4 linked regions of the Homo sapiens genome follow. The protein of the gene in region 1 purifies or fractionates together with the protein of each later gene. This does not show direct contact. Each region holds a gene or a part of one and is shown in the gene's direction. Other genes may lie near its edges. The genes, in order: SAXO5, LONP1, PPP2R2D and HAPLN3.

What was found.
Region 2: the proteins of SAXO5 (region 1) and LONP1 purify together in Homo sapiens (affinity purification with mass spectrometry; 2 studies listed by BioGRID and IntAct, with this or other methods). This does not show direct contact.
Region 3: the proteins of SAXO5 (region 1) and PPP2R2D purify together in Homo sapiens (affinity purification with mass spectrometry; 2 studies listed by BioGRID and IntAct, with this or other methods). This does not show direct contact.
Region 4: the proteins of SAXO5 (region 1) and HAPLN3 purify together in Homo sapiens (affinity purification with mass spectrometry; 2 studies listed by BioGRID and IntAct, with this or other methods). This does not show direct contact.

The regions. Positions count from the first base shown.
Region 1 is NC_000019.10:7,500,270-7,508,087, forward strand, and holds part of SAXO5 (stabilizer of axonemal microtubules 5), read left to right. Parts: intron 1-536; 5' UTR 537-553; coding exon 554-1,130; intron 1,131-3,851; coding exon 3,852-3,955; intron 3,956-4,041; coding exon 4,042-4,142; intron 4,143-5,054; coding exon 5,055-5,167; intron 5,168-5,247; coding exon 5,248-5,357; intron 5,358-5,694; coding exon 5,695-5,896; intron 5,897-6,786; coding exon 6,787-6,872; intron 6,873-7,818.
Region 2 is NC_000019.10:5,709,944-5,717,761, reverse strand, and holds part of LONP1 (lon protease homolog, mitochondrial isoform 1 precursor), read left to right. Parts: intron 1-3,490; coding exon 3,491-3,579; intron 3,580-4,508; coding exon 4,509-4,628; intron 4,629-5,759; coding exon 5,760-5,991; intron 5,992-7,818. UniProt on the Homo sapiens protein: ATP-dependent serine protease that mediates the selective degradation of misfolded, unassembled or oxidatively damaged polypeptides as well as certain short-lived regulatory proteins in the mitochondrial matrix.
Region 3 is NC_000010.11:131,952,521-131,960,338, forward strand, and holds the end of PPP2R2D (serine/threonine-protein phosphatase 2A 55 kDa regulatory subunit B delta isoform), read left to right. Parts: intron 1-3,163; coding exon 3,164-3,443; 3' UTR 3,444-7,314; downstream 7,315-7,818. UniProt on the Homo sapiens protein: Substrate-recognition subunit of protein phosphatase 2A (PP2A) that plays a key role in cell cycle by controlling mitosis entry and exit. Involved in chromosome clustering during late mitosis by mediating dephosphorylation of MKI67.
Region 4 is NC_000015.10:88,878,343-88,886,160, reverse strand, and holds part of HAPLN3 (hyaluronan and proteoglycan link protein 3 isoform 2 precursor), read left to right. Parts: intron 1-4,435; coding exon 4,436-4,804; intron 4,805-5,550; coding exon of another isoform or gene 5,551-5,618; exon of another isoform or gene 5,619-6,432; intron 6,433-6,692; coding exon of another isoform or gene 6,693-6,750; intron 6,751-6,891; coding exon 6,892-7,194; intron 7,195-7,818. UniProt on the Homo sapiens protein: May function in hyaluronic acid binding.

The DNA.
Region 1 (7,818 bases):
TGTGCCAGGCCTACAGTAGGCACCACATGAAAGATTTTTTTTTATGTTTTGAGACGGAGTCTCGCTCTGTCGTCCAGGCTGGAGTGCAATGGCACAATCTCGGCTCACTGCAACCTCTGCCTCCCGGGTTCAAGCGATTCTCCTGCCTCAGCCTCCCGAGTAGCTGGGACTACGGGCGCCCACCACCACTCCAGGCTAATTTTTTTTAAAAATTATTTTTAGTACAGACAGGGTTTCACCACGTTGGCCAGGCTGGTCTCGAACTCCTGACCTCAGGTGATCCACCGGCCTCGGCCTCCCAAAGTGCTGAGATTACAGGCGTGAGCCCCCGCGCCCAGCCATGATTATTTCTGTCTCTGCTCTCGCTGGGGGAAGGCACAGAAGCTGTACCAGTTTCCCGTGATGTCCCCAGCCTCCAGCTCAGTGCTTGGCGAACAGAAAGGAGTCAAAGGCAGCAGAAAGGAGTCAAAAGCAGGAGTCAAAGGCAAGTGCCCCAATGGGCACTTGCTCAGTCCCTCATCTCCACCCTCTCGCAGGTGGCTGGTGTCCCGCGATGGCCACAGGCGCCCTCCTGCCGTGCTCGCGCCCGTGCCCGATGTCCCGGCTGGACTTCCTCAAGGCCTCGCACTTCTCGCTGGGGCCTGACCTGCGGCTGCACGAGGGCACCATGCGCACCACGTCGCACCGGGACTTTGCCTACCCGGCTGCCACCCGGGAGCCGCCGAGCCTGCAGCCGCCGCCCGCGCTGCTTTTCCCAATGGACCCGCGCTGGGACCGGGAAGAGCGCGTGTCGGAGGCGCACCGCGCGTTCCCGCCGCCATCCACGCCGCCGTGGGAGCTGCTGCAAGCGCAGGCGCGGGAACGCACGCTCGCCATGCAGGCCGGCAACCTGCACCTGCACGAGGACGCGCACGCCGGGATCGGCCTCTCCAACGCGCACGCCGCCTACGGCTGGCCCGAGCTGCCGGCGCGCACCCGAGAGCGGATCCGCGGCGCGCGCCTCATCTTCGACCGCGACTCCCTGCCTCCTGGCGACCGCGACAAGTTGCGCATCCCGCCCACCACGCACCAGGCGCTCTTTCCACCCCACGACGCGCGCCCGCAGCCTCGCGCGCCCAGTTGCCACCTCGGTGAGCGCGCGCCCGGGCTGAGTGGGCGATTTGCTTCACATTGTGGTTCTCAAACAGGGGCAAGGGCTCTTCATTCCCCTTCCCCCAGGGAACATTTGGCAATGTCTGGAAACGCTTTTGGTGGTCAGGACTTGGGGGGTGGCCGGGCGCGGTGGCTCAAGCCTGTAACCTCAGCACTTTGGGAGTTGGAGGCGGGGGGATCGCTTGAGGTCAAGAGTTCGAGACCAGCCTGGCCAATATGGAGGAACCCCGCCTCTACTAAAATACAAAAATTAGTAGGGCGCGGTGAAGGGTGCCTGTAATCCCAGCTACTTGAGAGGCTGAGGCAGGAGAATCGCTTGAACCCAGGGGGCAGAGGTTGTGGTGAGCTGAGATTGTGCCACCGCATTCCAACCTGGGAGACAGAGCAAGGCTCCGTCTCAAAAAAAGGAAAGAAAGAAAGGAAGAAGAGAAAGAAGAAAGAGAGAGAGAGAGAGAGGAAGGAAGGAAGAAGGAAGGAAGGAAAACAAGACAGAGAGGAAGGGAGGGAGGGAGGGAGGAAGACTTGGGGGGTGGCGAGGCCACCCGCGGTGGCTCACGCCTGTAATCCCAGTGCTTTGGGAGGCCTAGGCAGGAGGATGTCTTGAGGCCAGAATTGGAGACCAGCCTGGGCAACATAGCGAGACCCATCTCTACAAAATAAAAATTTTATTATTTTTTTATTATATATATATGTGTATATATTTTTTTGAGAAAGTGTCTCTGTCACCCAGGCTGGAGTGCAGTGGCATGATCTCGGCTCACACAGACTAAATCTGCCCAGCTCAAGTGATCCTCCCACCTCAGCCTCCCAGGCAGCTGGGACTGCAGACACGCATGTCACCAGGCCCAGCTAATTTTTTGTACTTATTTGTAGAGATGCAGTCTTACTATGTTGCCCTGGCAGGTCTTGAACTCCTGGGCTCAAGCAATCCATCTGCCTCGACCTCCCAAAGTGCTGGGATTATAGGCATGAGCCACTGAGCCCAGCCCTTACAAAATAAAAATTTAAAAAGATGGGCAGAGGTGCTACCAGCAGACAGCGGGTAGAGGCCAGAGATGCTGCCAAGTATCCTCCCAGCCAGCCCCAAATGTCAATTACACCAAGCCTCAGAAACCCTGGAACCACCTTGAGCATCAGTTTCAGCATCAGGAGGGTGGACATATCCTCTGAATCTGTCCAGAGTGGTGCATGGTTGGCAGAAGTCATGAATGCCAGTTTGGGGTCAGACAAATCAGCTAAGTTCCCCAGCTGTACACCCTCCTCCCCACACCCCCCAGCCTTACCACCTTAGTAGCTGTGTGAGTCTGAGGGAGTTAACCTCTCCAAGCCTCAGTTTCCCCGTCTACAAAATGGGTGCAATCACAGGGCCCAATTCACAGGAGCTAGTAAAGCTGAATGTGTATGGTGTGTCTGGTGCAGAGAGCACTTAACAAAGAGTAGCCAGCATTCGTGTAATTTTCCAATTCTGTGACTCCAGGGACCCTTTGGGTGAACATTACTGGTCAGAGGCCCCTAAGATGGGCTCAGGGATTGTCAAACCCTGATTTGACATTTAGTTGTGATTCCTAGTTTCTGTGATTTCTGGCAAGTTGCTTAACCTCTCTGAGCCTCAAGGAGGCTGTAACAAGAGAAATGATACCAGGTCCAAGAAGAAGTTGCGGCCGGGTGCAATGGCTCATGCCTGTGATCCCAGCACTTTGGGAGGCTGAGGCAGGCGGATCACTTGCGGCCAGGAGTTGGAGACCAGCCTGGCCAATGTGGTGAAACCACATCTCTACTAAAAATACAAAATTCAGCCTGACCTGGTGGTGCGTTCCTGTAATCCCAGCTAGCTACTTGGGAGGCTGAGGCAGGAGAATCGCTTGAACCTGGGAGGAGCAGGTTGCAGTGAGTCAAGATTGTGCCACTGCACTCCAGCATGGGCCACAGAGCGAGACTCCATCTCCAAAATAAAAGAGAGACGGAGAGAGAGATACTCAGTCCTGGAAAAAGATGCAATGCACTTAACCTATGTGTGGCTCAATATAGTCCTTGGTAGATATTATTGGGGTTTTTTTGTTTTATTGTGTGTGTGTGTTTTTGAGACAGAATCTCACTCTGTGGCCCAGGCTGGAGTGCAGTGGCACGATCTCGGCTCACTGCAACCTCCACCTCCCAAGTTCAAATTATTCTCCTGTCTCAGTCTCCTGAGTAGCTGGGACTACAGGCACATGCCAACACACCCGGCTAATTTTTATATTTTTGGTAGGGATGGGGTTTCACCGTATTGATCAGGCTGGTCTTGAACTCCTGACCTCAGGTGATCCACCTGCCTTGGCCTCTCAAAGTGCTGGGATTACAGGCATGAGCCACCACACCTGGCTGTATTTTTAAATTTATCATTATTTTTTAGAGATGAGGGTCTTACTATGTTGCCCAAGCTGGTCTCCAGCTCAAGATGGGCTCAAGCCCATCTTTGCACTTCAGCCACCTGAATAGCTGGGATTACAGGCATGGGCCATTGCACCTGGCTTTTAGTATAATTTATTTTATTTTTATTTTTATCTTTTGGTGTTTGCCAGACAGCTCTCAGTCTACACTGTTCAGAATGGCCCAGCTCCCCTTCCCAGGCAAGAAATAGAATTCCTTCCAGAGGGCTTGAGATGGCAGGGAATCTCAATCTCTCTCTCTCTCCCCCCATCCCCCTTGCCTATCCTAAGGGGGCCCCAACACCCTCAAGTGGGACTACACGAGACAAGATGGGACTTCCTACCAAAGACAGTTCCAGGCCCTGCCAGGCCCACCTGCCTTGAGGTGTAAGAGGGTAAATTGAGGCTGTGTTGGGGCTGCAGGCGGGGGCAGAATTGGGGGCTGGGTGGTTTGGGCCTTCCTATCCCTGTCTGCCCACAGGCCTCCTCCGGAGTGGAGCTGGGAGACTGCAAGATCAGCTATGGATCAACGTGTTCGGAGCAGAAACAGGCCTACAGGCCCCAGGATCTGCCTGAAGATAGGTATAAAGGGGCCACTGCGGGCACGGTGGCTCATGCCTGTAATCCCAGCACTTTGGGAGGCTGAGGCAGACAGATCATGAGGTCAGGAGCTCGAGACCAGCCTGGCCAATATGGTGAAACCCTGTCTCTACTAAAAATACAACAATTAGCCGGGTGTGGTGGTGGGCGCCTGTAATCCCAGTTACTCCGGAGGCTGAGGCAGGAGAATCGCCTGAACCCGGGAGGCGGAGGCTGCAGTGAGCCAAGATTGCACCACTGCACTCCAGCCTGTTCGACAGAGCAAGACTCCATCTCAAAAAAAAAAAAAAAGTGGGGGACGAGGGGGCACTGCCTTCCCACCCAGATGGGACAACTGGCTTTCAGTAGCATGTGGTATTTGCCCCTTAGGGCTTTAGGGCCCATACTCTGCCTCTGAGGTCTCTGTCACTGGTAGCCAAGGTGCACTATTGTGCCAGATCTCTCATTATCAGAGCCCCACAGCTTGGTCATTAGGAAACCCTGCTCCCCTCCCTCTTTCTGGGGGTTGCAAGGCCCCAGATGGATCCACTTTAGCTTCTTCTTCTTCTTTTTTTTTTTCTTTTTTTTTTTTTGAGACGTAGTCTCGCTCTGTTGCCCAGGCTTGAGTGCAGTGGCACAATCTCAGCTCACTGCAACCTCCGCCTCCCGGGTTCAAGCAATTCTCCTGCCTCAGCCTACCGAGTAGCTGGAATTACAGGCATGTGCCACCATGCCCGGCTAATTTTGTATTTTTAGTAGAGATGGGGTTTCACCATTTTTGCCAATCTGTTCTCAAAAGCCTGACCTCAGGTGATCCACCCACCTCAGCCTCCCAAAGTGCTGAGATTACAGGGGTGGGCCACCATGCCCAGCCCACTTTACCTTATTCTTGATGGAATAATACACTACGTACAGGTATGACAAGGCCCAGGCCACAGCCCACATCCACTGTGTAAATATCCGTCCTGGTGACGGCCTCTTCCGCGACAGGACCACCAAGGCCGAGCACTTCTATGCCAGGGAGCCAGGTGAGAGCCTGAGGCCCGCCCCGTCCCGCCTCCCACCGCAGCCTCCCAGGGCAGCTCTGCACCTGTTCCGCTTCTGGCAGAGCCTTTTGTTCTTCACCACGATCAGACTCCGGAGTCGCACATCCTGAAAGGAAATTGGTGCCCCGGCCCCGGCAGTCTGGACACCTTCATGCAGTACTTCTACGGCCAGGTGAGCAGGAAGAGCGAAAAGGCGGCAGGGAAAAGGGCTTCCCAGACAGAGCAAATAGCAGGTGCAGAAGTCCCAAAGTGGGAGTGAGCTTGATATGTATGCAGGAATCTCCTGGATGTACTTGAGTGATCTAGGGCGAGTCACTTAACCACTCCGATCCTCCTCCGTGGCTCCTTCTGTAAAATGAGATAAGAGTACCAACTCCCAGTGCTACCAGGTGGGGCCCAGAAGGGGTGAGGGAGCTGTCCAAGGTCACACAGAGCCCACCTCCTCCCTCCCCCCCGGGCCCGGGGACCTCTCGGACGCCGGAGCTTTCAAATGCCATGTGGTCCTACAGCCGCCACCCCCGACCCAGCCACCCAGCCGCCACGTGCCTCATGAGAAATTGCAGAGTCATGTGACCCTAGGGGAGCCAAAGCTACTCAAACGCTTCTTCAAGACCACCATGGGCTCGGACTACTGCCCTTCAGAGTGGAGACAGGTGCAGAAAGCGCCCAACCTCCACTTGCAGCAAAGCTACCTGCCGCGGGGCACGGGCGGTGAGCGCTCCCGGGAAGCCCCGCCCCATGGAGCCCCGCCCCGGGAAGCCCCACCCCCGAAAGCCCCGCCCCCATGGAGCCCCTCCCCATGGAGCCCCGCCCCCACGGAGCCCCGTCCCGGGAAGCCCAGCCCTGGAAGCCTCGCCCTTGCCACTGCTCTGGCCCCGCCCCTAACCAGCCCTCCCCTCCCCCGGCTTCATCCCCTGAAAGGCTAAATCCCACCCCCAATTGACCAGAACCCCAACTCTGCTCCTGGATAATCCCGCCCCTTCATGGCCATGCCTCTCCCCTTCATAACTCCATCCTTCTGGACACGGCCCTGCCCCTTCTCCATCCTCTCTTATCCAGTCTTAACTCCTCTTCCATTGTCAGACTCTGGCTCCGCCCCTGACCCGCTAGCCTGCCCTGCCTGGCCCTGCCCACAGACTCATCTGGCCCGGCCCCGCCCCTGACCTTCTTAGCCCTATGCCCTAGCTCTGGGTTCCTCCCCTAGCTCCTCCGTCCTCCTCCAGCTCCTCCCTCTTCCCAAGCTCCTCCCCCTTTCTCTGGCTCCTTCCTTTGTCCCAGCTCCTCCCTCTTTCCCAGTTCCTCCCTCTTCCCCAGCTCCTCTCTCCTCCCCTGGCTCCTTCCTCCTCCCCCACCTCCTCCCTCTTCCCCAGCGCCTACCTCTTTCCCAGCTCCTCCCTCTTTCCCAGCTCCTCCCCCTTCCTCTGGCTTCTCCCTCCTTCTTTGGCTCCTCCCTCCCCCCTCTCCTAATCCATTTTTCTCCCCTGGTCAACTTCAGCGCTGGCCTGGGCTTGGCTCTTGAACCCTTCCCTTGAACTTCACCACACCCTCAGCCCCGCCTCGGCCCACAGCCCTCACTCAGCCTCCCCAACCTGAATCTCCAGAATTCGATTTTTTAACCATGAACCAGAAGATGCTGAAGCCACACAGAACACCTCCGGCCCCGGTGACTGAAGAGATGCTACAGCGGGTAAGGGAGGCGGAGGGGAGCCACCCATCATTAGGCAACCCCCACATTGGTGTAGAGTTATCTCAGGACGACTATGCTGTCACCCTGTCTCAGAGTTAGTGATCACCCAGGCTCGGGGGCATCTTAATATCCCTTCAGCCTGAAGATCATCCCTAGCTTGGCCGGGTGCAGTGGTTCACGCTTGTAATCCCAGCGCTTTGGGAGGCCGAAGCAGGCGGATCACCTGAAGTCAGGAGTTCGAGACCAGCCTGGCCAACATGGTGAAACCCCGTCTCTACTAAAAATACAAAAATTAGTCAGGCATGGTGGCGCATGCCTGTAATCCCAGCTACTAGGGAGGCTGAGACAGAATTGCTTGAACCAGGGAGGCAGAGGTTTCAGTGAGCCAAGATCGCACCATTGCACTCTGGGCTGGGCAACAGAGCAAGACTCTGCCTCAAAAAAAGGAAAAAAAAAAATAGAGGTCATCTCTAGCTCACCCCCCAGGGTCATGTCAAGGTCAGCTCAGGGGCATCTTTGCACCACCACCACTGTTATACCCAAGACGAGGGTTAATTCAGAGCCACCCAGGATCACCCCAGCCCTGGAGTCCTTCCAGGGACACCCCTGGTTTCTCTCCATCTTCTTATCCAGCTCCTCATTCAGCCCAGCCTGGGGCCCTTTTTGCCCACCTCTCCCCAGAGTTCAACCTCCCCAGCCTTTGATGCTCTGGCTCTGTCCCTAGGCGGCCCCACCTTACCCCAGGCTTCACCTTCTGAAGGGCTAAATCCCACCCCAAATTGACCAGAACCCCAACTCCGCCCCTGGACAATCCCGCCCCTTCGTGGCCAAGCCCCGCCCCTGCATAACTCCACCCTTCTGGCCATAGCCTCGCCCCTTTCCCTATCCTCTCTTACCCAGTCTTAACCATCCTCCTTGGTCAGACACTGGCTCCGCCCCGACCAGC
Region 2 (7,818 bases), 1.8 Mb from region 1:
GCCTGGGCAACAGAATGAGGCCCTGCCTCAGCAATAACGTGATGCTGTTTCCTCTTTGGTGTACTTCTGACATTTCAGGACTCTGCCCCGGAGGCCTTTTTCCCATCCTTGACTTCACCCCTGGCAGTTCTCTTTACCCTCCCAGGTTTCTGGGCCCAGGATGGTGTTCATCAGGCCTGGTCCCCTCCGTTCTGCAGAGCGACAGATGCCCCTTGCTCCCGGTGCCTGAGCAGAGAGATGATTCTTCTAAGAGAGTTCAGACGGCCCACGTGGAGCTAGCCAGGAGAGTTAAATGAGTGGCTGCAGATAGTATTTGGGAGACTGGCAGGTGGTTCTCATTGTATTTCTGGTTGATGATGCATTGTAAATCATAAAAATGGATCCTGCCAAGGCCAGGAGGCAGATGCCAAGGATGCAGCTATCAGCTGTTGGCAGAGGGGAAATTGGGAGGCAACTTCTTTGGGACCCAATAAATGTTTCTGAAATTGTTAGCAAAGCTTGATTTACTCTTCAGTTTGTACTTGACTTGTCTGGCCAACTTGCTCTAGAAGCTTCTCTCCTATTAGCAACTTTTGAGTAAGGAACAATGGCTCTTAATTTTTGGTGGGTATTAAAGAATAAATCATAAGTGTTAGAAGTATTAGTTTCTTTTAAAAACTAACTTCGTGGGCTGGGCGCGGTGGCTCACGCCTGCAATCCCAGCACTTTGGGAGGCTGAGGTGGGCGGATCACGAGGTCAGGAGATCGAGACCATACTGGCTAACAAGGTGAAACCCCGTCTCTACTAAAAATACAAAAAAATTAGCCTGGAGTGGTGGTGGGCGCCCGTAGTCCCAGCTACTCGGGAGGCTGAGGCAGGAGAATGGTGTGAACCCAGGAGGCGGAGCTTGCAGTGAGCTGAGATCGCTCCACTGCGCTCTAGCCTGGGCGACAGAGCAAGACTCTGTCTTAAAAAAAAATTGCTTCCCTCCTTTGTTCAGGTGTGCTCTGCTCTCGCCATTGTTCCATCTGCGAGGAGCACCCTTTCTTCAGAAAGTAAAATTGTCTTGCTAAGAAAACTTTTTGTCCAAATGCTAATTTTTCCTTACAGTACAGAGGTACAAGCGTTCTGTCTCTAAACAAACATTTTACTTATAACAGTGGGTCACACACCCTCCTGTCAGATGTTACTGACTTTTTTTTTTCTGGGAACAGAAAAAAAAAAAATTATGTATCTATAGTGTCAGGAATTTCTGGACCACAAGTTAAGAGCCTGTGTTAGGGAGTGAGTCAAAACACTGGCTCTCAAAGGATGGTTGTGGACCAGCAGCATCGGCATCATGTGATGCTCTTTTGTTTGAAATGCAGATTTTTGGACCCACCCTAGAACTGAATCAAAAACTCCAAGGGTGGGGCCCAGCAGTGAGCTGCTTAAAGTCCTTCAGGTCATCCTGGTGCCTGCAAAAGTTTGAGGGCCATTACTATATATATATATATATATATATATATATATATATATATATGTATATTTTAACTTTATTATATAATAAAGAATTAAAAACTTCAAAAAGAAAATAGAGATGGGGTCTCACTGTGTTACCCAGGCTGGTCTCAAACTCCTGGGCTCAAGCGATCCTCCCACCTCAGCCCCGCAAAGTGCTGGGATTACAGGCATGAGCTACCATTACCAGGCTAGCCAGGCCATTACCTTTAATCAGGGTCTGTCCAGTGAATTAACAAAGGCTTGAAAGAAATCAGGTGAGCTCCTTGCGCCTTCAAATGCTTCTTAGAAGACATCATTAGCCCTGAACCTGCCGTTGAGAATGTGCTGTGATCCTGGGGGTCTTGATCATTAATGAACAGCATATGATGTGATAAGGAAGTAACTGTCAATGAAAATTGGAGGAACCAGGCATGGTGGCTCATGGCGAAACTCCGTCTCTACTAATAATACAAAAATTAGCGAGTGCAGTGGCGTGTGCTTGTAACCCCAGCTATGTGGTAGGATGAGTTGGAAGAATCGCTTGAACCTGGGAGGTGGAGGTTGCAGTGAGCCGAGATTGCACCAGTGCACTCCAGCCTGGGTGGCAGAGTGAAACTTTCTTTTTTTTTTTTTTTTTTTTTTTTTTTTTTTTTTTTATGAGACAGAGTCTCACTCTGTCGCCCAGGCTGGAGTGCAGTGGCGTGATCTTGGCTCACTGCATGCTCCGCCTCCCGGGTTCACGCCATTCTCCTGCCTCAGCCTCCCGAGTAGCTGGGACTACAGGTGCCCGCCACCACGCCCGGCTAATTTTTGTATTTTTAGTAGAGACGGGGTTTCACCGTGTTAGCCAGGATGGTCTCGATCTCCTGACCTTGTGATCTGCCCGCCTCGGCCTCCCAAAGTGCTGGGATTACAGGCGTGAGCCACCGCGCCCAGCCTGAAACTTTATTAAAAAAAAAAAAAAAAGGAAGTTATCAATCTCTGGAGTGGGTCACATTTAAATTACTTATGTTTATTCTGACATTAATAAAAGCAGAATGGTTTTGATTTTCAAACCAAGACAGTTTGCCCTGGACATCCCCTTTGAAGCTGGATGTTAAATCAATTTCTGGGTTCTGACCATTCGTCTACTTTGAATTTCCTTTGGGAGTGGGGAAACCGCTAAGAAGAATCCAGCTGGTCAGTTCTGCTCACTGTATTCACCACCACAGCCTCCTGGCCTCCAGCACTTTTTTTTTTTTTTTTTTTTTTTTGTTTAGGCGTTCCCAAACCATGTTGATTAGTATCCAGGATGCGGATCAGCATGTCCCCAGAGAATAATCTACACAGCGTTAGAGCGGCTCTGCTGTCAAAAAATGTCAGCTACAAAAGCTACCCTGGGAGGCCGGGCGTGGTAGTTTACGCCTATAATCCCAGCACTTTGGGAGGCTGAGGTGGGTGGATCACGAGGTCAGGAGTTAAAGACCATCCTGGCCAAGATGGTGAAACCCCATCTCTACTAAAAATACAAAACAATCAGCCGGACCTGGTGGCGGGCGCCTGTAATCCCAGCTACTCAGGAGGCTGAGGCAGAGAATTGCTTGATCCCGGGAGGCGGAGGTTGCAGTGAGCTGAGATCATGCCACTGCACTCCAGCCTGGGTGACAGAGCGAGACTCCGTCTCAGAAAAAAAAAAAAAAAAGAAAAGCTACCCTGTGCTGCGTTTGGTGGCTCACGCCTATAATCCCGGCATTTTGGGAGGCTGAGGTGGGTGGATCACCTGAGGTCAGGAGTTCGAGACCAACCTGGCCAATATGGTGAAACCCCATCTCTACTAAAAATAAAAAAATTAGCCAGGTGTGGTGGTGCATGCCTGTAATCCCAGCTACTCAGGAGGCTGAGGCAGGAGAATCCCTTGAACTCAGTGGGGGTGGAGGTTGCAGTGAGCTGAGATCACGCCATTACATTCCAGCCAGGGCAACAGAATGAGACTCTGTCTCAAAAAAAAAATCTACTCTGCATTTCACTTTGGGGTCATTGTCATGCTAGGTTAAAAATAAGAAGTTGGTTGAGCTGCTGAGAAGGAAAGTTCGTCTCGCCCAGCCTTATGTCGGCGTCTTTCTAAAGAGAGATGACAGGTAAGTGTGATTTTTCCTTCATTCCCTTGTTGACGGTGCCCTAGAGTCCAGCTCACCACAAGTCCTACTCTGTACTTTGCACCTTTGACCCCTGACCCCGAGGAAACCAGGGAAGACCTCCAGAATAAAGGCCAGAAGCCACGCAGGCTACCTTTTCAGCCTGGGCTGAGAACTCAGCTTGTAGTACTAAACTTCATGCATTGTTAAGATACGGGGGAAATTAACTTCAGGGACTCTTAGTGATGAAATGCTCCATGAGGCTACCTGAAAGTCGAGCTAGCTGCTCGGAGATGTGGCTCCATGTAGAAATGAGTTCCATGGGCCGGGCGTGGGGTCGCACACCTGTAATCCCAGCACTTTGGGAGGCTGAGGCATGTGGATCACCTGAGGTCAGGAGTTCCAAAGCAGTCTGGCTGACATGATGAAACCTCGTCTTTACTAAAAATACAAAACATTAGCCAGGCGTGGTGGCAGGTACCTGTAATCCCAGCTACTCAGGAGGCTGAGGAAGGAGAATCGGTTGAACCTAGTAAGTGGAGGTTGCAGTGAGCTGAGATTACACCATTGCTCTCCAGCCTGGGCAACAAGAGCGAAACTCCATCTCAAGAAAAAAAGAGTTCCATGCATGCATTCGAAGCAGGCTCTGTGATAGCATAGAAGAGACTCATCAAAGTCCCACCTGGACCATGTCTTTGTGGCTGACTTAGCGAGGAGCCACCCACCCGGTCCTGTGACCACTGGGGCAGCCCTGGCCTGGCAGAAGCTCCCCTAGGCTCTGGAGCTCCTGCGGGAGCCAAGGAGGCCGCTCTTGGTTTTCAGTAGCATTTGGTAGGGGCGTTTCTTTTCTCTCCCTCCTCCATCTCAGCCAGAGACATCCTGCCTAGCATGAAAGCCATGTTCCAACATTCCTCTGTGCTCTTCTCCCACAGCAATGAGTCGGATGTGGTCGAGAGCCTGGATGAAATCTACCACACGGGGACGTTTGCCCAGATCCATGAGATGCAGGACCTTGGGGACAAGCTGCGCATGATCGTCATGGGACACAGAAGGTGGGTGGCTGGCGGGGGACAGTGGGAGGTGGGGGCAGAGTACCACGCGGGAGACCAGCCAGGATGCCTTATGCCCCAGCATCAGCCTCTGCCCTGTCCGTCAGCCCAGCGGCTTTCTCACTAGCACTGAGGCCAGAGCTGGGGGTGAGAGTGAGACATGTCACCTCTGGACCCCTCCTGTCTCAGAAAGGGGTGAGCTGCAGGGCCAGGCATGGTGACTCCTGCCTGGAATTCCAGCACTTTGGGATGTCAAGGCAATTGGATCGCTTGAGCCCGGAGTTTGAGTCCAGCCTGGGCAACGTAGCGAGATCCCATCTCTGCAAAAAATGTAGAAAAATTAGCTGGATGTGGTGGCTCATGCCTGTGGTCACAGCTACGCAAGAGGCTGAGGTGGGAGGATCGCTTAAGCCCAGGAGTTTGAGACCAGCCTGGGCAACACAGCAAGACCCTGTTTCTATAAAAAATAATAAAAAGTTAGATGTGACGGCGTGTTCCTGTAGTCCCAGCTACTTGGGAGGCTGAGGCAGGAGGATTGCTTGAGCCCAGGAGGTAAAGGCTGCAGTGAGCTATGATCACACCACTGCACTCCAGCCTGGGCAACAGAGCGAGACCCTGAGTTCAGGTGGTGCCAGGTGCTCTGAGGGGAGACGCAGACAGCGTGAGAGGTGGAGGTGGGTAGCTTTTGTGAAGTGCTTGGGGACAGTCTTTGCGATGGTGTCCTTGAAATCGAGACCTGAACAACAGGAAGGAGCTGCTATGAGCTGAGTCCAGGGCACAGAGTCTTGGAGACCAGCCTGTGCCCGGCCAGGCTGACACCGTTTTCGACAGGAGGCCCTGGGGCTTGTCACTGCAGCTTATCCACGATACTTAGGATGGGGACAGTGATGCATTGGCGTGGGATGCAGGGAATGCCTGAATCTGGCTGGAGTCTAAGGGGTGGAGGGGACACTGGTTGGGAGGCCCCGAGAAAGCGGCTCACGTCTCCAGCTTGAGGACCCTGTAGCCACCCTGTGGCTCCAGAGGTCTGGGCTCAGCGGGACCCTTGGACCACCTGTGCCACCAGGGAGGCCTCAGCCGGGTCCAGCTCCCAGCCTCAGCGGCTGATTCACACCTGCCTTGCTCCCGTGTCAGAGTCCATATCAGCAGACAGCTGGAGGTGGAGCCCGAGGAGCCGGAGGCGGAGAACAAGCACAAGCCCCGCAGGAAGTCAAAGCGGGGCAAGAAGGAGGCGGAGGACGAGCTGAGCGCCAGGCACCCGGCGGAGCTGGCGATGGAGCCCACCCCTGAGCTCCCGGCTGAGGTGCTCATGGTGGAGGTAGAGAACGTTGTCCACGAGGACTTCCAGGTCACGGAGGAGGTGAAAGTGAGTCCGTGCGTCACGCAGGGCGGCCACAGCTGCCTCCCCCACGGGCTCCCTTGAGCCGTTCCTGCGGCCTCTCCGAAGAGTCATCTCCCACCCTGAGCCCCTTAGGAAGGGTCTGGCCTGTCTGGAACTCAATTCTAATGGAACATAGAGGGTGCTTTTCCTCCCAGAGGTCTTCGGAAGACTCTGGGATGGGAGAGGCACAGGAAATTCGCTGGAGCCTGTAGCTGCTCAGGAAGGAGACAGGGTTGGAACCCAGGTCCAGCCCCAGCCCGTGTCCCCTGTGCCAAAGCCTCCAGCGGTTACCAAGACACCTTCCAGCCCTGGCTTCTTCCCACCAAGCCTGGGAGGTTGGTACCAGTGGTTGCAGGACAGGAAACAGCCTGTTGGCCACCCTGATCCCCCAACCTAGGCCGTCCTGCCTGCCTGGTGGCACAAGGAGTCAGCTTCCGAGGTGGGCAGGCTCTTGGCGGTGCCACCTGCCCTCCCGCTGTAGGGACAGTCAGCGAAGCTAACCAAAGGCCTGAAGCGTGTCAGCTCCTTACCTGTGTGCCTGGTGTCATCAGCCTCTTCCCCAGGCTGCTGCAGGGCCTAGGGGGAAGTGCTGTGAGCAACTGGTGATGTCTGCTGTGGGCGCTGGCAGGGGTGGAAAGTCCTGTCCACAGGCCCACCTGGGTTCTTGAGGTCAGCACTTCTATCCTGCCCCACTACCCCTGCGAGGTTTTTTTTTTTCTTTCTTTTTTTGAGACAGAGTCTGGCTCTGTCAACCCAGGCTGGAGTGCAATGGAACGATCTCAGCTCACTGCAATTTCCACCTCCCAGGTTCAAGTGATTCTCATGCCTCAGCCTCCCAAGTAACTGGGATTGCAGGCACGTGCCACCACACACGGCTAATTTTTGTATTTTTAGTAGAGACGAGGTTTTACCATGTTGGCCGGGCTAGTCTCAAACTCCTGACCTCGGGTGATCCGCCCACCTCAGCCTCCCAAAATGCTGGGATTATAGTCGTGAGCCACTGTGCCCGGCCACCTGTGAGTATTGAGCACTTGAAGTAGAGCTGCTGTGGCCAAGGAACAGAATGGAACATTTTATTGGCTGGGTACAGTGTCTCATGCCTGTCATCCCAACACTTTTGGAGGCCAAGGAAGGAGGATCACTTGAGCCCTGGAGTTCAAAACCAGCCTGGGCAATATTGAGACCCCTGTCTCCACAAAAAAAATAAAATCCCTGGGCATGGTCGCACACACCAGTGGTCTAACCTGTGGGAGGATCGCTTGAGCCCAGGAGATTGAGGCTGCAGTGAGCTGTGATCGCATCACTGCACTCCAGCCTGGGCAACAGAGTGAGACCCTGTATCTAAAAATTAAAATAAAAAAATTCAGGCCGGGCACGGTGGGCTCACGCCTGTAATCCCAGCACTTTGGGAGGCCGAGGTGGGCGGATCACCTGAGGTCAGGAGTTTGAGACCAGCCTGACCAACATGGAGAAACCCCGTGTCTACTAAAAATACAAAAAAAAATTAGCCAGGTGTGGTGGCTTATGCCTGTAATCCCAGCTACTCGGGATTACTGAGGCGGGAGAATTGCTTGAACCTGGGAGGCAGAGGTTGCGGTGAGCCGAGATTGCACTATTGCATTCCAGCCTGGGCAACAAGAGCAAAACTCTGTCTCAAAAAAAAAAAAAAAAAATTCAGACAGCCACCAGCGGCTACACTGTCCTGGGCAGCTCAGCATTGGGGCATTCCCTGTGAGAATCTTGCAACAGGGGGAAGACAGCGACCAAACTTACAAATGTGATTAGAACTGGCAAGACCCCTTAGGGGCAGCG
Region 3 (7,818 bases), on another chromosome or scaffold:
GCGGGTGGTTCACTGTCTTAGTGACTTGCGGGTGTGCGGGGGGTTCACTAGTGACTTGCGGGTGTGCGGGGGGTTCACTGTCTTAGTGACTTGCGGGTGTGCGGGGGGTTCACTGTCTTAGTGACTTGCGGGTGTGCGGGGGGGTTCACTTAGTGACTTTCGGGTGTGTGGGGGTTCACTGTCTTAGTGACTTGCGGGTGTGCGGGGTTCACTGTCTTAGTGACTTGCGGGTGTGCGGGGGGTTCACTGTCTTAGTGACTTGCGGGTGTGCAGGGGGTTCACTTAGCAGTGACTTGCGGGTGTGTGTGTGGGGTTCACTGTCTTAGCAGTGACTTGCGGGGGGGGTCCCTGTCTTATCAGTGACTTGCGGGTGTGTGTGGGGGGTTCACTGTCTTAGCAGTGACTTGCGGGGGGGGTCCCTGTCTTATCAGTGACTTGCGAGTGTGCGGGGGTTCACTGTCTTAGTGACTTGCGGGTGTGCAGGGGGTTCACTGTCTTAGTGACTTGCGGGTGTGCAGGGGGTTTCACTGTCTTAGCAGTGACTTGCGGGTGTGTGTGGGAGGTTCACTGTCTTAGCAGTGACTTGCGGGGGTTCCCTGTCTTAGCAGTGACTTGCAGGTTTGCGGGGGTTCACTGTCTTAGTGACTTGCGGGTGTGCGGGGGGTTTCACTGTCTTAGCAGTGACTTGCGGTTGTGTGTGGGGGGGTTCACTGTCTTAGCAGTGACTTGCGGGGGGGTCCCTGTCTTAGCAGTGACTTGCAGGTATGCGGGGGTTCACTGTCTTAGTGACTTGCAGGTGTGCGGGGGTTCACTGTCTTAGTGACTTCCAGTTGTGCGGGGGGTTCACTTAGCAGTGACTTGCAGGTGTGTGGGGGGTTCACTGTCTTAGCAGTGACTTGCGGGGGGTCCCTGTCTTAGCAGTGACTTGCAGGTGTGCGGGGGTTCACTGTCTTAGTGACTTGTGGGTGTGCGGGGGGTTCACTTAGTGACTTGCAGGTGTGCAGGGGGTTTCACTGTCTTAGCAGTGACTTGTGGTTGTGTGTGTGGGGGTCACTGTCTTAGCAGTGACTTGCGGGTATGCGGGGGTTCATTGTCTTAGTGACTTGCGGGTGTGCAGGGGTTCACTGTCTTAGTGACTTCCAAGTGTGCGGGGGGTTCACTGTCTTAGCAGTGACTTGCGGGTGTGTGGGGGGGTCACTGTCTTAGTGACTTGCTGGTGTGCGGGGGTTCACTGTCTTAGTGACTTGCGAGTGTGCGGGGGGTTCACTGTCTTAGCAGTGACTTGCGGGTACATGGATAGTCACTGTATTTTTTATTCCTCTTGATATATTTCAAATATTGCAAAATACCCTTAGATTACATATCCCCAAGAACATCTAAAAGCGTTCCCAGTAACATTTGCTTAGTCCATTCACTCTCAAAAACACGCCAGTCTTCCTACCTGGAAACTTCTGTTGAGGGATGCGATGAAGGGGAGTGAGGCGTTTCAGTGCTGCCTCAGCCCAATCCTGATTCTCCGTGTGGCAGCGCCTTCTTGTGTTCTAGGTCGCCCCACAGAACCAGTTATGTGCTTACGCCTGTGTCTCTGTCTGTGCTGTTCCCTTCCTGGGCCAGCACCAGGCTGCTGGGCAGCGCCCTTGTTTGCAGTGTGGAAACACCCACTCTGGGGCTGGCACTATCTGTCGAGAATTTAAAAGTGATCATAAATCTGTATGAAAGCTGATGTGCTTTTCGTTATTACCATGCACCAGCAATTCCAGTCAGTGTCGGCCATACATCATCTGTCGTCTGTGTTCTGAATAATGGTTACTGTTGAGTTTTAATAACATAAATGTAAGCTTCAGATTCACACATTCTTATTACTTACCCTTTCGTAAACATTGTGTTTTATGTGGAAACTAATTTGGGGAACCCCCAGTCAATGGCCCTCACGTGCCAACTTGGCTGCATACCCCTGTTCCAAGACCACGTGCACAGCTTGGCATTGCTGGAGGGCGCTGGGCACACCTTGTGTCTCCCGCCTCTGTGGCGCTGTGGGCTCCTGGATGGAAGCAGGAGATGGGAAATAAACATGGATCGCTGAATGCAGTTTCTCTTCTCTGAGTTCGTCTTTTTTTTTTTTTTTTCCCCTGCTTTGAAGTTTTAGACAAGGTCAGTCAGACACTAGGTATTTGCCAGCAGCCAGGGTCAGTGCTGGGCCATGGAAGGGAAGCGGCCCGCTTCTTTCTCATGGCACCTTGAAGACGCGCCAGCGTGAAAGGCCTCTCACCGCGCATGACCATGGGGGCAGGACGTGAGGGCGCGGGTTAGTGTCAAAATAGGAAGAGGAGGCGAGCTTCAAGGACGGCTGGAGAAACCAGAAGGGCATTGTTTGAACACATCTTTCATCAGAAACTGGACTCATGAAGCCATGGGTCAAATCATGGCAGCGTTTGCATCATTCAGCTATTTTTCTGTCATTTTTGTAGAAAATGTAAGATTGCAGAGGTTTTTACCAGTATTATGAAGTTATATCATGAGGATGTGTGCGGTAGTAGAATTTTTCGACAGCAGAGACATTTGAAAGCCATTACAGTTGATCTTGAAGAAACAAAAGCATGGACGGTATTGTATTGTCTGGAATGTGTGTGAAATGCAGTTGTTCTAAAATTCTGCCACACTTTGCCCAGTGGATTTTTACTATTTCTATCCGTTGCCTCATTTGAAAGAAACTTTTTGAAATTAATAGAAAAGCAGTTTAACTCCAAAGAAACATTGACAGATATGACTAGTAACTGTTGAACATGATAAGGATTATGTTCAGGTCATTATGGATCATTGACAAATTGCAGAACATAAGGCTTAAAAATAAACTGTGCTGTTATTCATGAGTGAGATAAATAGGTGGGGTTGTTTCAAAAAATACACTAATGTTAAAAGTGTGACTCCATTATTTTGTTTCTCCTGTGACATGGATTCTTACTGACATGATTATAGATAAAGCTCGGTACACATTTTCACTGCATTTCTCTTCTGCCCATTGTGATTGATCATTCCTGATTTCTGAAAGTAACTGGGTTGTGGGGGAGGGTGGCGTGCGCTGTGCACCCCAGGGGTGGGGTCTGAGTCCTTGCTGCCGCTCCCCCCACTGAGGAGTGCTGCTGTCTGCTCTTGTTTTGAACAGCGCCATCATGACCGGGTCCTATAACAACTTCTTCAGGATGTTTGATAGAGACACGCGGAGGGATGTGACCCTGGAGGCCTCGAGAGAGAGCAGCAAACCGCGCGCCAGCCTCAAACCCCGGAAGGTGTGTACGGGGGGTAAGCGGAGGAAAGACGAGATCAGTGTGGACAGTCTGGACTTCAACAAGAAGATCCTGCACACAGCCTGGCACCCCGTGGACAATGTCATTGCCGTGGCTGCCACCAATAACTTGTACATATTCCAGGACAAAATCAACTAGAGACGCGAACGTGAGGACCAAGTCTTGTCTTGCATAGTTAAGCCGGACATTTTTCTGTCAGAGAAAAGGCATCATTGTCCGCTCCATTAAGAACAGTGACGCACCTGCTACTTCCCTTCACAGACACAGGAGAAAGCCGCCTCCGCTGGAGGCCCGGTGTGGTTCCGCCTCGGCGAGGCGCGAGACAGGCGCTGCTGCTCACGTGGAGACGCTCTCGAAGCAGAGTTGACGGACACTGCTCCCAAAAGGTCATTACTCAGAATAAATGTATTTATTTCAGTCCGAGCCTTCCTTTCCAATTTATAGACCAAAAAATTAACATCCAAGAGAAAAGTTATTGTCAGATACCGCTCTTTCTCCAACTTTCCCTCTTTCTCTGCCATCACACTTGGGCCTTCACTGCAGCGTGGTGTGGCCACCGTCCGTGTCCTCTCGGCCTTCCTCCGAGTCCAGGTGGACTCTGTGGATGTGTGGATGTGGCCCGAGCAGGCTCAGGCGGCCCCACTCACCCACAGCATCCGCCGCCACCCCTTCGGGTGTGAGCGCTCAATAAAAACAACACACTATAAAGTGTTTTTAAATCCAAACAGAAGTATTGTCTTTTTATTTAATTTTATTGCATAGAATGAAGTTATGCAGGGTTCTTCTTTGGAACTAACTGTTTGAGAAATGTGTGTCCTTCTTTGGCAGCGTGGGGGTATGTGTGCAGCATTTCTGTCCCCAAGCTGCTGCCCGCTGTGTTTCTGTAGAAGTAGCCCATCAGATACACCAGGTAAGGTCTGGGAAAAGCCAGAACCGAGGCCACCTCTGAGAAAGAAAATTGCAAGGAAGAACCAAAATTGCTGCCATCCAGTAAGCCTGGTTTAAAGTAGCTTCAAATTCACTACAGTTGAAGAAATACGTGCTTGCTTTCTAAGGCTTTTGAAAAAGCACTTTGGGGAAAGTATACTTTTTAAACATTGCTAAAATTACATGCATGCTAAATTTCATCCTGCATTTCAAGCCAGCAAAATTAAGCAATTTTAATTACACGATGCCACCAGTACGTTGGTTTATTTTCAAAGTAGGATCTTTGATACCAGAAATCAAGATTTTCCAAGACAAATAATACAGAGCTGTACCAATGCTGAGTGACCAGAGCTTGCTTCCGTGGGATTTAACACACGCCCACTACGTGTCCCCGAGGGGAGTGGGGAGTCGGGCTCCCGTGCCCCTGTGGAGATGGAGGTGTGTGCTGATCCCCCGTCCGCCTGTGGAGATGAAGGTGTGTGTTGATTCCTCCTGCTGCTGTGGAGATGGAGGTGTGTGCTGATCGCCCGTCACCCTGTCTAGATGAAGGTATGTGCTGATTGCCTGTGCCCCTGTGGAGAAGGAGGTGTGTGCTGATCCCCTGTGCCCTGTGGAGATGGAGGTGTGTGCTGCTCCCTCGTGCCCCTGTGGAGATGGAGGTGTGTGCTGATCCCCCATCCCATCCCCCTGTCTAGATGAAGGTGTGTGCTGATTCCTCATGCCCCTGTCTGGATGAAGGTGTGTGCTGATCCCCCGTCCCCCTGTGGAGATGAAGGTGTGTGCTGATCCCCCGTGCCCCTGTGGAGATGAAGGTGCGTGCTGATCCCCCATCTCCCTGTGGAGATGAAGGTGTGTGCTGATCCCCATCCCCCTGTGGAGATGAAGGGATATGCTGATCCCCTGTCCCACTGTGGAGATGAAGGGGTGTGCTGATCCCCCGTCCCCCTGTGGAGATGAAGGTGTGTGCTGATCCCCCATCTCCCTGTGGAGATGAAGGGGTGTGCCAATCCCCCGCGCCCCTGTGGAGATGGAGGCGTGTGCTGATCCCCATCCCCCTGTGGAGATGAAGGTGTGTGCTGATCCCCCATCCCCATGTGGAGATGAAGGGGTGTGTTGATCCCCTGTCCCCCTGTGGAGATGGTGTGTGCTGATCCCCGTCCCCCTGTGGAGATGAAGGTGTGTGCTGATCCCCCATCTCCCTGTGAAGATGAAGGGGTGTGCTGATCCCCCGTGCCCCTGTGGACATGGAGGCGTGTGCTGATCCCCCGTCCCCCTGTGGAGATGAAGGTGTGTGCTGATCCCCCATCCCCATGTGGAGATGAAGGGGTGTGTTGATCCCCCGTCCCCCTGTGGAGATGAAGGTGTGTGCTGATCCCCGTCCCCCTGTGGAGATGAAGGGGTGTGCTGATCCCCCATGCCCTGTGGAGATGGAGGTGTGTGCTGATCCCTCGTGCCCCTGTGGAGATAGAGGTGTGTACTGATCCCCTGTTCCCCTATCTAGATGAAGGTGTGTACTGCTGATCCCCCGTCCCCCTGTGGAGATGAAGGTGTGTGCTGATCCCCCATCCCCCTGTGGAGATGAAGGGGTGTGCTGATCCCCCGTCTTCCTGTGGAGATGAAGGTGTGTGCTGATTCCTCATGCCCCTGTGGAGATGGAGGTGTGTGCTGATCCCCCATCCCCCTGTGGGGATGAAGGTGTGTGCTGATCCCCCATCCCCCTGTGGAGATGAAGGGGTATGCTGATCCCCCGTCCCCCTGTGGAGATGAAGGTGTGTGCTGATCCCCCATCCCCCTGTGGAGATGAAGGGGTATGCTGATCCCCTGTCCCCCTGTGGGGATGAAGGTGTGTGCTGATCTCTTGTCCCCCTGTGGAGATGGAGGTGTGTGCTGATCCCCCATCCCCCTGTGGAGATGAAGATGTGTGCTGATCCCCCGTCCTCCTGTGGAGATGAAGGTGTGTGCTGCTTCCTCGTGCCCCTGTGGAGATGGAGGTGTGTGCTGGTCCCCCGTCCCCCTGTGGAGATGGAGGTGTGTGCTGATCCCCCGTCCCCCTGTGGAGATGGAGGCGTGTGCTGATCCCCCATCCCCCTGTGGAGATGAAGGCGTGTGCTGATCCGCCATCCCACTGTGGAGATGAAGGCGTGTGCTGATCCCCCATCCCCCTGTGGAGATAAAGGTGTGTGCTGATCCCCCATCCCCCTGTGGAGATGAAGGCGTGTGCTGATCCGCCATCCCACTGTGGAGATGAAGGCGTGTGCTGATCCCCCATCCCCCTGTGGAGATGAAGGCGTGTGCTCATCCCCCATCCCCCTGTGGAGATGAAGGCGTGTGCTGATCCGCCATCCCACTGTGGAGATGAAGGTGTGTGCTGATCCCCCATCCCCCTGTGGAGATGAAGGTGTGTGCTGATCCCCGGTCCCCCTGTGGAGATGAAGGTGTGTGCTGATCCCCCGTCCTCCTGTGGAGATGAAGGCGTGTGCTGATCCCCCGTCCCCCTGTGGAGATGAAGGCGTGTGCTGATCCGCCGTCCCCCTGTGGAGATGAAGGCGTGTGCTGATCCGCCATCCCCCTGTGGAGATGAAGGCGTGTGCTCATCCCCCATCCCCCTGTGGAGATGAAGGCGTGTGCTGATCCGCCATCCCACTGTGGAGATGAAGGTGTGTGCTGATCCCCCATCCCCCTGTGGAGATGAAGGCGTGTGCTGATCCCCGGTCCCCCTGTGGAGATGAAGGTGTGTGTTGATCCCCCATCCCCCTGTGGAGGTGAAGGTGTGTGCTGATTACTAATCCACATGGGCAAGAACAGGATGTCCGTCATTACCCTGAATCAATGCTAACACAGTGCCACTTGAGTTCACATTAAGTTAGAAATTGAGAATCTAAAGGTACCTTTATTTTAACTAAAAAATAATTTATATACTGTATATTGATTGTGACACAATTTACAAAGTCTGAGGTGTGGAACAGTTATTTAAGCATTAGTCAACCCTGGTCCTTAAGACAGTTCTAGTAAAATGGGATTGTATATATTTGTTCAACTATTTTGACCAAAAAGTTCAATAAATTTTAAATGTTTAACTGGATTTTCACTGCGTATTTGGACACCCTTTTCCATCTTCCTCTAGAATGTATTTCCCACTAAATAGCCCACCTCCTCCACCCCCAGGGCAGAGCAGAAGGTGCAGCCCAGGCGGGTCCCGTGTGTAGAGGTTCCACGTGGCACTGCTGCTCCCGTGGAACTGCCACTGCCTTGAGGTCTGCGGCGCACGTTCCCTGGAGGTGTCGTCACCTAGCTCTGGGGCGCCTGCGGGGGAAGCCACCTGGCCAGCAGTCCTGTCCGTTTCTGTGGGTTCTCCCCAGTGCAGTCTTGATGTTCTGAGAGGCGCTGGCAATTCCACGCACCTATGTCCGCAAAAAGCAGGATCCATTCACTTTAGAGAAGTGCCCTCAACAGGCGCGGAGGAAGACGTGCCCTCAACAGGTGCGGAGAAAACTTCTCTTTCCTGCTTAAAGTAGAACAGTGTCATCAGCTTCTGAAGGTTAATGCTGAGCACAGTTTTCATTGATGAGGATTCTGGGCCCGTGGT
Region 4 (7,818 bases), on another chromosome or scaffold:
CCAGGCTGGTCCTGAACTCTTGACCTCAGGTGATCCACCCGCCTCAGCCTCCCAAAATGCTGGGATTACAGGCGTGAGCCAACGAGCCTTGCCGAAAATACACATTTTTAACCATTAGTGCAGCACGGGTGCTGACCAGGCTGAATTGATGCTGTCTGCCCTCACAGCCTGAAAGTAGATTCTATTATCATCCCTTCTCATAGATGAGCAAACTAGGCTCAGAGAGTTGATCCAGTTGTCCAGGTCAAACAGCTATTAAAAAGACAAAGCTGAGGGCTGGGTGCAGTGGCTCATGCCTATAATCCCAGCACTTTGGGAGACTGAGGTGAGTGGATCACTTGAGGTCAGGAGTTCAAGGCCAGCCTGGCCAACATACCGAAACCCTCTACTAAAGATACAAAAAATTGGCCAGGCGCGGTGACTCACACCTGTAATCCCAGCACTTAAGGAGGCCGAGGTGGATGGATCACGAGGTCAAGAGATCAAGACCATTCTGACCAACCTGGTGAAATCCTGTCTCTACTAAAAATACAAAAGTAGCCGGGCGTGGTGGCAGGTGCCTTTAATCCCAGCTTCTCAGGAGGCTGAGGCAGGAGAATTGCTTGAACCTGGGAGGCAGAGGTTGCAGTGAGCTGAGATCATACCACTGCACTCCAGCCTGAACGACAAAGTGAGACTCCGTCTCAAAAAAAAAAAAAAAAACACAAAAAACAAAAAATTAGCCGGGTGTGGTGGCGTGCACCTGTAATCCCAGCTACTCAGGAGGCTGAGGCATGAGAATTGCTTGAACCTGGGAGGAGGAGGTTGCAGTAAGCTGAGATCACACCACTGCACTCCAGCCTGGGTGACAGAGTGAGACTCTGCCTCAAAAACAACAACAACAAACTTGTTCCACTTGTTTGTGGAAGGAACGAACCAGATGGCTGGTCTCAGTAATAGCCAGCACCTGCCATGAAGAGCGCACAGCCTGGTTCAGAGACGACACATGAGCCTGCAAGTGCAGTGCTGGGTGTTTCTCACCTTTCCCTCTGCCTTTGAGTAGATGATTGTGCCTGCAGAGGCATTTTCCCTCTTTTGATTAGTCTCCTAGGTCAGCTGTAACAAATTAACACAAACTTGGTGGCTTGAAACAACAGAAATGTATTCTCTCACTGCTTTAGGCACCAGAAATCCAAAATTAGTTTCACTGTGCAGAAATCGAGGTGCGGATAGGACTGTACCTCCTGTGGCTCTTGGGGAGAATCTGTTCTTGCCTTGCCTCTTCCGGTTCTGGTGGCTGCTGGCATTCCTTGGCTGTAGCTGCCTCACTGCAGGCTCTGCCTCCTTGGTCACGTGGTCTTCTCCTCTTTTATATGCAAATCTCCCTCTGCCTCCCTCTAAACAGGTACTTGCGCATTTGCATTTAGGGCCCACCTGGGAAATTCAGGATACCCTCCCCATCTCGACATCCTTAGTTTAACCTCATCTGCAAAGTCCATTTTGCTACATAATTAGGATTTAGGGTATTTTGGGAGGCCATTATTTAGCCCACCACACCCTTTTCCTTCAGAATTTATTTTGTTATACAAGCCCTACTTTATTTATTTATTTATTTATTGAGACAGAGTCTCGCTCTGTCACCTGGGCTGGAGTGCAGTGGCGCGATCTCGGCTCACTGCAAGCTCTGCCTCCTGGGTTCACGCCATTCTCCTGCCTCAGCCTCCCGAGTAGCTGGGACTACAGGCATCCGACACCATGCCTGGCTAATTTTTTGTATTTTTAGTGGAGATGGGGTTTCACCGTGTTAGCCAGGATGGTCTCGATCTCCTGACCGCCTGATCCGCCCGCCTTGGCCTCCCAAAGTGCTGGGATTACAGGCGTGAGCCACCGTGCCCGGCCTACAAGCACTACTTTAATGAGATTTGCGGAATTTAAAAAACTTAAACTTCCTACTCATAGTTTCACTACACTACCAGGCCAACATTTCATTTTTGTCTTTCCCTTTTGTCCCTGAATATGTAAGCAAAGTCATATATAATCCCCCCACCCAGGGGAACCACTGTTAACTTTTTAGGTATCTCTTTCTAGCCTTTTCTTTTTTTTTTTTTTGAGACAGGGTCTCACTCTGTCACACCAGTGCAGTGGTGTGATCTCGGCTCACTGCAACTTCTGCCTCCTGGGCTCAAGAGATCCTTCCACTTTAGCCTCCTGAGTTAGCTGAGACTACAGGCGTGCACCACTGTGCCCAGCTAATTTTTGTATTTTTAGTAGAGATGGGGCTTCACCGTGTTGGCCACGCTAGTCTCGAACTCGTGGCCTCAAGTGATCTGCCCGCCTTGGCCTCCCAAAGTGCTAGGATTACAGGCGTGAGCCACTGCACCTAGCTGAGCCATTCTTTTATGATTTAGAAAACTTTCTCCAACAAAAACCAGCTCATGTCATACATGTGATTTTTGTATTCTCCCTTATCACCTCATAGAATAGAACTCGTTTTCTAAGTCAATGATTGAATGTACATCTACCAGATTATTTTACATGGCTGTATAGTATTTTATCATATGGATGTACATTTTCATTTTATTCAGGTTAAAGCTTCAAAGGTAGTTTACTTAAGAGAGTTGGGAAGAACCAAGGAAGTGGCCCCTAAATGATAGCCCTGCTTCATATTTATTGGACACTTTCTGTGTGCCAGGCATCCTGCCTTACCTGATTTGAACCTTACCACAGCCCTCTGTAGGGACTGTAATTAACCCATTCTACAAATGGGGAAGCTGAGTCTTGACTTCCCTGGATTACACAGCTGGGAAAAGGTGGAACCAAGGGCAAGCCCGAATTGCCTGACTCCAAACCTCTGTACCTACTGCCTCTGCAGAGCAGGACAGCTCTAATCTGAATGAGCCTGAAAGTCCCCTGGAGGCTGGACCCCATTCCCAGAGTCTCTGAGGCACTGGGACCCCACAATGTGCATTTCTGACAAATTCCTGGTGATGCTAATGCTGCTGGCCCGAGGGCCACACTTGGAGACTTCTGCATATGGCAATCTGCTACATTAGGTATAGCTCTTTTTTAGCACGATTCCTCTACAGGGAACCTCCCTGTCTGTCTCCTGCTTACCCATGAGGCTGTCCCCTTGCCTCCACCTTTTTAATTAATTAATTTGTTTTTATTTTGTTTTTGGCAACAGAGTCTTGCTCTCTCACCCAGTTTGGAATGCAGTGGTGCGATCATGACTCACTGCAGCCTTGACTTCTGGGCTGAAACAATACTCCCACCTCAGCCTCCCGAGTAGCTGGGACCACAAGCATCTACCACCATACTCAGCTAGTTTTAAAAATTTTTTTGTAGAGACAGGGTCTCACTTTATTGCCCAGGCTGGTCTCAAACTCCTGGGCTGAAGCGATCCTCCTGTCCTGGCCTCTCAAAGTGTTGGGATTATAAGCGTGAACCACCGTGCCTGGCCCCTGTCCCCACCTTGAGTAAATCAAGCATGTCTTGAAGTCTAGACCCAAGAGAATGAATCAGTGAGGTCCCAACAGGGGCTCCCAAGTTAAAGATGAGGCAGCCTTAGCCTATGAACTTGATTCTTTTGTTGCATGTTGAGTTCTGTGTGTATTTGTAACTCTGAGCCGTGAGCGTAGTCTCCTTTAGAAGTTCTGCCCTTAGCTCAGTAGGCTGCTCCGTATTTGGGAAGAGTTATGGTGGACAGCTGGACCAGAGAGTAAAGCCAGGGCTGTGCTGTCCTCTGGCCAGTGTGGTGGGGAAGGAAACTCCGACGGATCCCTATCAGGGCCACTTGTCCTGGCCATGTACCTCATGTGGGGTGGCTCTTGTTGCCTGCTCCATTGGTTAGATTTTATGCATAGCAAACCACCCAAAACTTAGTGACTTCTTTAGGATGACAGCCATTTGTTTAGCTCATGATTCTGTGGGTCAGCATTTTGGAGTGGGCTCCATTTCTTCAGGTCTTGCGGTTGGGTCTTGCAGATGTGCCTGCCCATGGTGGGCAGGTCAGCTGGGGGCTGGTTGCTGTAGGATGGCCTCAGCTGGGGCGCCCTGTCTCTGTTCTGTGTATTCTCTCATCCTCTAGCAGGCAAGCCTGGCCATGTGCTCATGGTGGCTGGCAAAGTCCTAAAAAAAGAGTGGAAGCAGCAAGGCCCCCTGGGACCTATGCTCAGAGCAGGCATGATGGATAACAGTCACTTCCAAGGCATTCAGTTGGTCAAGCAAGTGGCAAGGCCAGCACAGATTCAAGGGGGTGGGGGAATAACTGTCATCTCTTGATGGAAGGAGATGCAAAGTCACATTGCAGAGCATGTGGATACAGGGAGGGGTGGAGCATGGTGGCCATTTTTGCAATCTGAGCCTGTAGGAGCCGTGGATGAGGGTGTGCGGTGGCCCTTGCAGGGGTACAGATGTGCTTCAGCAGGTCTCATCTGCACCCTGTCTCTCCCCCAAGACCTCCTTAATGGAGTGAAGCTGGTGGTGGAGACACCCGAGGAGACCCTGTTCACCTACCAAGGGGCCAGTGTGATCCTGCCCTGCCGCTACCGCTACGAGCCGGCCCTGGTCTCCCCGCGGCGTGTGCGTGTCAAATGGTGGAAGCTGTCGGAGAACGGGGCCCCAGAGAAGGACGTGCTGGTGGCCATCGGGCTGAGGCACCGCTCCTTTGGGGACTACCAAGGCCGCGTGCACCTGCGGCAGGACAAAGAGCATGACGTCTCGCTGGAGATCCAGGATCTGCGGCTGGAGGACTATGGGCGTTACCGCTGTGAGGTCATTGACGGGCTGGAGGATGAAAGCGGTCTGGTGGAGCTGGAGCTGCGGGGTGAGATGCTAACGGGGACTGGGTGACACTGGGACCTGAGAGCAGAGGGGAGAGGACCAGAGAAAACATCCAGACCTCTGTGCTTTAGACATTTAAAAGTACTTAATTCTCAAAACAACCCACATGGAAGCTACTGTTGTGACCCCCATTTTACAGGTGAGAAAACTGAGGCACAGAGAGGTCAAGTAACTTACCTAAGGTCACACAGCTTGTAAACGACAGAGCTGGGGTCTGAACCCAAGCACCCAGCCTCTAGAATCTGTTCCCCTCTACCCGCTGTAATTCACATCTCATTCAGAGAGAGGAAAACCAGAGCTGGTCCCACAGCTTATTAGAGACAGAGCTGAGATTTAAGCAAGGTTAGCGGGTAACACAAGCGAATGAGGCAGCCCACTGTGAGACGATGGGAGTGGTGGGGACTGGGCACACTCCTGAGCCCTTGTCCTGTGCCCAGGGAGCTCCCACACTACTCAGGCCCAGCTGATGATGCCACGCCAGAATGCAGACCCCACTGCCAAATTTTCTGGCTTGACAAGATAAGCTTATATTTTTATGTGAGATCTCCTGATTTTTATGTAAAAACCTCCTTTTTAAAAACAAAACAAAACAAAAAACAAACAAAAAGCCCCCCCAAAACCAAAAACAAAAACCCAGTGCTGTCCAAACCAGCCACACCCTGCAAGCCGGATCTTGTATGTGGGGTCCCTGTTTGATCTTTAATTTGTATTTACCTTCTCTGTCTCTAGGATGGGGCTGTGTGTCCTCACATCTCTCCCACATGTTAGGGAGGCAGTTCGGGGATAGAGGAAGGTGACCTGACTTTAGCCCCAGCCCGTCCCAGCTATGACATGTGGGTAAATGCCTCATCCCCCTTAGAGCCCTGGGCCTCTCAGGTGTAAAATGGGGTATCACAATCTTTCCTCCTTTACCTCCCTCAGAGGCAATGAGGATAAGATGTATGTCCTTAAAATGCGTTCTCTGTCTTTGCCACCAGTGTCCACATGGCTTACATGGTGGCTCAGAGGGGCCGCATTCCTCATTCTTGAAGTTGGGGTGGCAGTGGAGTTGGGGAGAACCTGCAAGAGTCATTGGTCTGGGGTCTGCAGGGGCAGCCTAGAGAAACAGGGAGCCCTCACCCCATTCCCGGGGCTTCAAGGGCTAGGAATTTGGGGTGGAACCAGGCATGAAATAGTCCCCCTGCAAACACACGTAGAGGCTGCAAGCTGACTGTCAGGGCCCATGGGCTTCTCTGCCGCCCAACCTGGCTTTGCCCAGGTGCCTGGCTTCCGGCCCTGGTGAGATCGGAGGTTTGGGGCTCAGGCTGTTCCTGGGTCCTTGGCCACACGGAGGAGATTCCAAAGTGTCCTTCCCAGACCCCTAGGGTCACCTCCACTCCCTAAGGTTTCATTGACTTGGTAGAGACTACATCTCAGAAGTTTAAAAACTTTTTATTAGAGTAAAATTTCAAACACGAACATATCTTTTCAGGGCCTGTGGCCTCTATCAGACCCTGACCACAAGGAGAGAAACCGCCTGCCCCAGACCTCCCTGCCCTTGAGCCTCCTTTATGGAAGGCCCTTCCCCAACCCTCTCCCCACGGCCTCTAGGGCCTCTCCTTCTCCTGAAAATCATCTGCCACACGTGGAAAGTTCCTTGCATTTTCCTAGGAAATTTCCACATTCATAATAACGTAGACGATCGGGTCCCAGCTAACGAGTGGGGAGCTGGGAGTCAAACCTGGCCCCTAGAGCCCAAAGCCCGGGCCTGTCTGGAGAAGATGGCACAGCCTCACTGGGGGTCTGGCGACAGCCTTGCGGATTAGGTTGGGGACATTGTTGGGGACATTAATGGACTAATTAATTACCTTAACTCATGGATGTTTTCTGAGTACTGCTGTGAACCAGCTGAGTCCCAGGAGAGAGGCGGCAACGGACAGGAGGTCAGAGGTTTGCTGAGTTTTTCTGAGGGATGGTGTATGTGTGTGTGTTGCAGGCAGCACATGTCCCAGTGAAGGTGGGAGGAGAGCGGGGTGTCCAGCCAGCTGGGCCCCTGGCCACCCCCTAAGCTCCTCTTTCCTTCCCCTGCAGGTGTGGTCTTTCCTTACCAGTCCCCCAACGGGCGCTACCAGTTCAACTTCCACGAGGGCCAGCAGGTCTGTGCAGAGCAGGCTGCGGTGGTGGCCTCCTTTGAGCAGCTCTTCCGGGCCTGGGAGGAGGGCCTGGACTGGTGCAACGCGGGCTGGCTGCAGGATGCCACGGTGCAGTACCCCATCATGTTGCCCCGGCAGCCCTGCGGTGGCCCGGGCCTGGCACCTGGCGTGCGAAGCTACGGCCCCCGCCACCGCCGCCTGCACCGCTATGATGTATTCTGCTTCGCTACTGCCCTCAAGGGTGAGTGGAATAGCCAAGCGCGGGCCTGTGGGTTTGGTGGCCACCTGGGACCTGTGAGAGGGCAGCTTCTGGGGAGCTCTGGCCCCCTCTGCTGGCTCTGCTGGTACTGCCACCTGGAGGCCAAGAGCACCAGCCACCCTAGAAGCAGCATCTGGTTGAGTTTTGAGTGCTTTGCTGCTGCTGCGTTATGCAGGGCATAAATCATTGGTTTCTTCATTCATCAAATGTTTACTGAGTGCCTACCATATGCTGGGGCCTAGACTAGGCTCTCGGGAATCACAGACGAATAAAACACAGCCTGTCTTCACAAAGCAGCTCATTTCGTAGGAAGATGAACAAGTAAAAACAGAAACTGGTTCAGTGTCATATGCCAAGCCCTTGGAAAAGTGTCTGACACATAGTAGGTGTTCAGTAAATGACCGAATGGGCAAGAGACTCTGACTGGTCCAGCCTAGGTGGGGTGCCCACCCACCTAAATAGGGAAGGGTGGTGGGGGAGTGCAGACATGTCTGGAGGGACCTGGGTTCTATGGCAGGTGGGACAGAGCTCTCTGGGACAGGGTGAAGATTAGAAAGTGTTCTCTGCAGATGCCTGCAGTATGGTAGCTCCCTGGGCTCAGACGGG